Linked DNA regions of Homo sapiens: region 1 is linked to region 2. The links come from fine-mapping of genetic effects on gene expression. Tissue or cell type: whole blood. Region 2 holds a variant in brackets; the other region holds the start of a gene. All regions are shown on one strand. Distances are between the middles of the regions.

The links. PIP is the estimated chance that this variant, and not a neighbour inherited with it, causes the effect.
Region 1: TRIM6 starts here. The variant in region 2 is fine-mapped to the expression of TRIM6 in whole blood (TOPMed, PIP 0.96).

What each region holds. Positions count from the first base shown.
Region 1 is chr11:5,595,039-5,597,726 of GRCh38, reverse strand. It overlaps TRIM6 (tripartite motif containing 6), which reads right to left and starts at 1,090. Exons shown (of 8, transcript NM_001003818.3): 1 at 813-1,090. The coding sequence starts at 829. It overlaps TRIM6-TRIM34 (TRIM6-TRIM34 readthrough), which reads right to left and starts at 1,090. Exons shown (of 14, transcript NM_001003819.4): 1 at 813-1,090. The coding sequence starts at 829. It also overlaps a transcript of TRIM5 not described here. RefSeq lists enhancers at 1,106-1,155, 402-1,319, 1,474-1,768.
Region 2 is chr11:5,627,768-5,630,455 of GRCh38, reverse strand. All of the region lies in intron 7 of TRIM6-TRIM34 (TRIM6-TRIM34 readthrough), which reads right to left. All of the region lies in intron 1 of TRIM34 (tripartite motif containing 34), which reads right to left. It also overlaps a transcript of TRIM5 not described here. Among named protein-coding and RNA genes, the nearest start is that of TRIM34, 4.1 kb to the right of the region's middle. The variant C/T (reference allele first, on the strand shown) is at 1,503.

The DNA of each region.
Region 1 (2,688 bases), 33 kb after region 2:
ATAAAAATCAGTGACTCAGCAGGGGATACTGGGGCTGGTGTAGGCTGGGGGTTCAGAGTTAGGAATGACAGAGCGGGCCCGTCCACCAGCTGGGAGCCCTAGTGAAAGTGGAATAAAATAGGTGGCAGTTGCATTTATAAGTGAGTTGGGCATGAGTTCTTGCACTTTAGGAATAACATTTTTTTTTATCTTTGTGTAGGGTTATATTTAACCTATTATCTGCAATTGATTATCTAACAGGACTCAATAAATATTTGAATTGGAACATAATCAGTTTCAAAACAAAAAATTTAATTTCCACTTCAAAAGAATTTCTACCCCCTGCATTTCAGAAACCTATAATTTAAAAATTGTTTTGATTGTGCATTTTTTTAAAGCTAGGCATGGAGTTTGCCAGTAATAATGACCATAATTTGTGTCAGGCAGCCTCCTACGTGTTTAAATCTGTCTCACTCAATCCTCACCAAAACTCTAAGATATACATATTACTCCGTCCATCTTATAGATGGAAGAAACTAAAGCTCAAAGAAGTCAAGTTAACAGTCTTCGGGCACACAGCCAGTGTCTGTCAGAGTCAGGATTTGAACACATGCAGTCTGGCTGCGGCATCTATGCTCCTAACCACACATTTCTGTCTCTATTGACTGACTGATTAAAATGTCTCTAACCTCAGTGGGGTCATTTGCAGTGAGAAAGAAAAAGAAATAAAGATATAATGAGTTCCGAAAGGGAAAGGACCTTATCTCTTTCACTGCCCTGTCACCTCTGCCAGAAGTGACAATAAGAGCCAGTCAACAGAACGGTAGACATACCTCTCTGACCCGCACATCTGGGGAATGAGAAGCCAAGAAGTTCCAGATGTAAGCAATATCAGGTGGTCAAAGCTCTTCAGAGCAATCCAAGGCACCTTAAACTAATCTTAAGGAACAGAGCGCGCTCACTCGGCTTTTATCTAAACTCAACCACGCACGACTCTGCTCCGTTCCGTTCCGAGAAAGGCAGGGGATCCCTCCTCCGCCAGCCTTTGGCCGTTGAACGGACGGACCCACAGGTCAGGAGTTTGCGGAAGGCTCATCTCCCAACTCCTTCTGGGAGGAGTCGGGCCGCCTGGGGTGGGGGATAAACGGTGCTCACTTCCTGGAGCGGCCAGGCTGGAGATGGGGGAGGGGAAGGGGGAAGGGGGAAGGGGGAAGGGGGAAGGGGGGAAGGGGAGAACGGGGGAAGGGGGGAAGGGATGCTGACTCTGAATCCACGCCTGACAAAATGGTTTGCAGTGATTCCCTAAAGCAGTTTCCAGAGCTGCCTCCTCTACATACTTCAGCTTGTAGAATAGAGGTTTAACTCTCTTTACACGGCCTATTCCCAGCTGCAAAGGTGCCTCTTCTGTGCTCCCTTCCCAAACTTGAGTTCACTTGAAAATGCAGAAGTCTCCCTCATTCTTCTTTCACCCGTGAACCACCCCCAACCCGACCTGCAGAGCGGGTCAAACTCTCCAGACAAGTGGGGACAGCGGTAGCTGGCCAGAAAATAAACTTGCTCACTAACCTGGAATCTGTGGCCTGGATCAGAGCCAAGGACTTGAAGCAGCCGCGTCCTCCACCCAGGCCGAAAGACTCAGGGGGGAAGGGGCGGGGCCTGGGGAGGAGGAGGGTCAAATTGTCCAGCCCCGCAGGAGATCCAGCCGATTCCATGGGTGTGGTCACCAGTGACCCCTCAGGTGGTAAGGGAGATGGAGATGGTTTCTGAGGCCAGGCGCGGTGGTTCACCCCTGTAATCCCAGCACTTTGGGAGGCCGAGGCGGGCGGATAACGAGGTCAGGAGATTGAGACCATCCCGGCCAACATGATGAAACCCTGTCTCTACTAAAAATACAGAAATTAGCTGGGCGCGCCTGTGGTCCTAGCTACTCGGGAGGCTGAGGCAGGAGAATCGCTTGAACCCGGGAGGTGGAGGTTGCACTCCAGCCTGGAGACAGAGCGAGACTCTCTCTCAAAAAAAAAAAAAAAGAATTTTTGAAGGTAGCAACGCAAAGCTGTTCATCTTACCTGATGAACGGCAAATCCGGAGGCCTTTGAGAACACCAGGCCAGAGATGACCCTTGTAAATTGTCTGCAGTGTACTGTAGCTTTCTAATATCATATCAGAGTTTAATTACACTGATAATACACCTGTACTCCATATAGACGTATTAATTAAAATGTCTAAATAAACATATAAAGTTATACGAGTAAAAGCCCCTTTGCATAATGGCATGTTTTGCCAAACGATCATTAAAATTCATCAGTTTAAAATTACACGTATGTATGTATAAAGCTGTGTGTGTGTATCTGTAATTTTGACCTATATAACTAGAAGACAATCTTTGTTTTTATTTAGGTCTGATGAATACATGTAAAGCTTATTGAGCCTCAGAACTCTAACTACAGGGTTTCAATAGCACAGAAACTCTGAGAAGAAAAAGAATGTCAAAGTTCCTCCCTAAGGAGACTGATTAGGTGAGTATCACCTTGCCTTAGAAGGTGGCTTGGGGAGGGAGGTATAGAGAGAGAAGGGACTGGGGTGTCCATACAAAAGTCTGGACGGAGGATTGGGCAGTAGGGAGAGAGCTGGGTTAAGTATCAAGAGATTTCTCTGGACAGTCCCCAGGCAAATGAAAGGTCATTGGAATCTCGTAAGTGCAGACATGTG
Region 2 (2,688 bases):
CCTAAATGAAGTAAAAGTGACAGTCTCTTTCCAATGAATAGGAGGTGGGGGCAGGGATGGGAGGATGCAGGACAAGTTAACAGAGAGAAGCAGATGAGGGTGGGAAGTAGGGTAAGGTAAAGGAAATAAGATTGGAAGTCAGACTAGACATGTGGGGGAAAAAAAGGTTATCATTAGGCTTAAGTCCTTTCTTCCTATAAAAAACACATCGCCATCACCATCCCCTGGTATATTATTTTATTTTTATTCTTTTTGGTAAGCACAGACCTCATTTTCCGTAAGAGGATTGAGACTCTTGTAACAAAATATTCTCTGTAGGGCCCTGGAAGCTATGTTCATGGTCTTTACAAGGGAATCAATCCGTTGATGTAAGATTTACCTAAGCTACGTTAGTTTCACACGCATCCACATGGTCACATGGTCTTGTACCACCGTAAGAATCCTCACTGAGGCCGGGCGCGGTGGCTCACCCCTGTAATCTCAGCACTTTGGGAGGCCGAGGCAGGCGGATCACGAGGTAAGGAGATCAAGACCATCCTGGCTAACAAGGTGAAACCCCATCTCTACTAAAAATACAAAAATTAGCCAGGGGTGGCGGCGGGCGCCTGTAGTCCCAGCTACTCGGGAGGCTAAGGCAGGAGAATGGCGTGAACCCGGGAGGCAGAGCTTCCAGTGAGCCGAGATCGCACCACTGCACTCCAGCCCGGGCGACAGAGCGAGACTCCGTCTCAAAAAACAAAACAAAACAAAAGAATCCTCACGGAGAGCTCACCTGAAGCGGCCCTGTCTGCATGCTATATCTCCTGTCCTGTATTCCCCCTGTGGAGTTAAGCTGCATGAGTGCAAATGGCAAAACAAACCTGCAATTATTGCTTGTGGTCAGCCAGAGGGTGTACCACAGAGTAGTGGCATGATGATACAATGCCAATTCTCAGAACCTGAGGTCAGTTTAGACAAGAAACTGTGAGGCAAAGGGAAAAAGGGTGGCTCTCAGTAGGCAGTAACATTTTGATACTTGTTCTAGTAGATAGATTTATACCCTCCACAAAAATTGTTCACTTATGTGAATGTGAACTTATTTGAAAATCACATCTTTGCAGGTGTAATCAAGTTAAGATGAGGTCATACTGGATAAAGACAGGCCCTAAATTCAATGACCTGTAGTTTTTGTTTTTTTTTGAGATGGAGTTTCGCTCTGTCGCCCAGGCTGGAATGCAATGGTACAATCTCAGCTCACTGCAACCCCCGCCTCCCAGGTTCAAGCGATTCTCCTGCCTCAGTCTCCTGAGTAGCTGGGATTACAGGTGTATGCCACCACGCCCAACTAATTTTTAGATTTTTAGTAGAGACGGGGTTTCACCATGTTGGCCATGCTGGTCTTGAACTCCTGACCTCAGGTGATCCACCTGTCTCGGCCTCCCAAAGTGCTGGGATTACAGGTGTGAGCCACTGCACCCGGCCTTGACCTGTGTTTTTATAAGAGGAGAAGACATACAGACACA[C/T]GGGAAAGAAAGCCATGTGACAGTAGAGGCAGAGATGGGAATAGCACAGATATAAGCCAAAGAATGCCGAGGTTTGCTAGAAACCACCAGAAGCTAGGAGAGAGGAATAGAACCGATTTTCACATAGAGCCTTCTGAAAAAAAAAAATCAACTTTGCCGCCATCTTGGTTTTGGACTTCTGGGCTCCTGAGCTGTGATACAAATTCCTGTTGTTTTAAGTCATCTAGTTTGTGATAATTGGTTACAACAGTGCTAGGAAACTAATATAATTGAACAGGTTTGATAGTGAAAGAAAGATCTGTGATGTGTGACAACTTAGGAATCTTTCCCACGCTTGGCAAAAGGATGGGGTACAATAAAAGCTGTATGGAGATAAACCTAGGCCTCGAGACCTGTCTACTCCTCTAACCATCCATCAAAAGACCTTAAGGAGGAAAAAAAGCTGAAAGTTGACTGGCGAGTGTCATCCAGCCAATGGTACAGATACTAAAAATCATACAAAAGAGATATACTGGTAGCCCCTGGCTACAATGACCATTGGTCAGACCAGGATCTGATGACTAGTAAGACAAGGAGTTTATATGATATGATAATATTCACCCCTGTTTATGGCTAAAGCCATGAGCCAACCACAGATGTGGGGTTCTTTGTTATCTTTTATTCCAATCAGTATCCAACCAATAGTTAGAAATACCGGGGGGCTCCAGGAGAGGAAGTAGTAGAACATGCATTCTGCCACGGGCTGTGACTTCATGTTCACAGTGAGGATGCATGTTGATGCCAAAGCTGCTGCCACCATAATGGCAAAAGAATGAGAAAAGTGCAGAGTAACCACGGTCCCACGTGTGAGAAATGACCCCACCACTTCCCAGTGTGGCTCAAGCCCAGCAGCAGTCAGGGAGGTAGAGAAGGGAACATGAGTGCCATTGGCCTGACAGAACTCCCAGGTTACCTGGTTACCATAGCTGCCAGGTGATTATACCCTTCATTTGAGTCTTCTCCTAACATCTGGACTCCTAACATCTGGATATGATAATGCAAACTTTAAGTCTCTCTGCAGGTAGATAGTAAAATTAGAGTGTCTCTACGAGTGACTTTTAGGGGAGGATGTCTTTTGAAGTTTCTAGACAATATCCTAGACACTTCTTCTGGATTCTTGGTCAGAAACTGCCAATAAGGAAAGTAG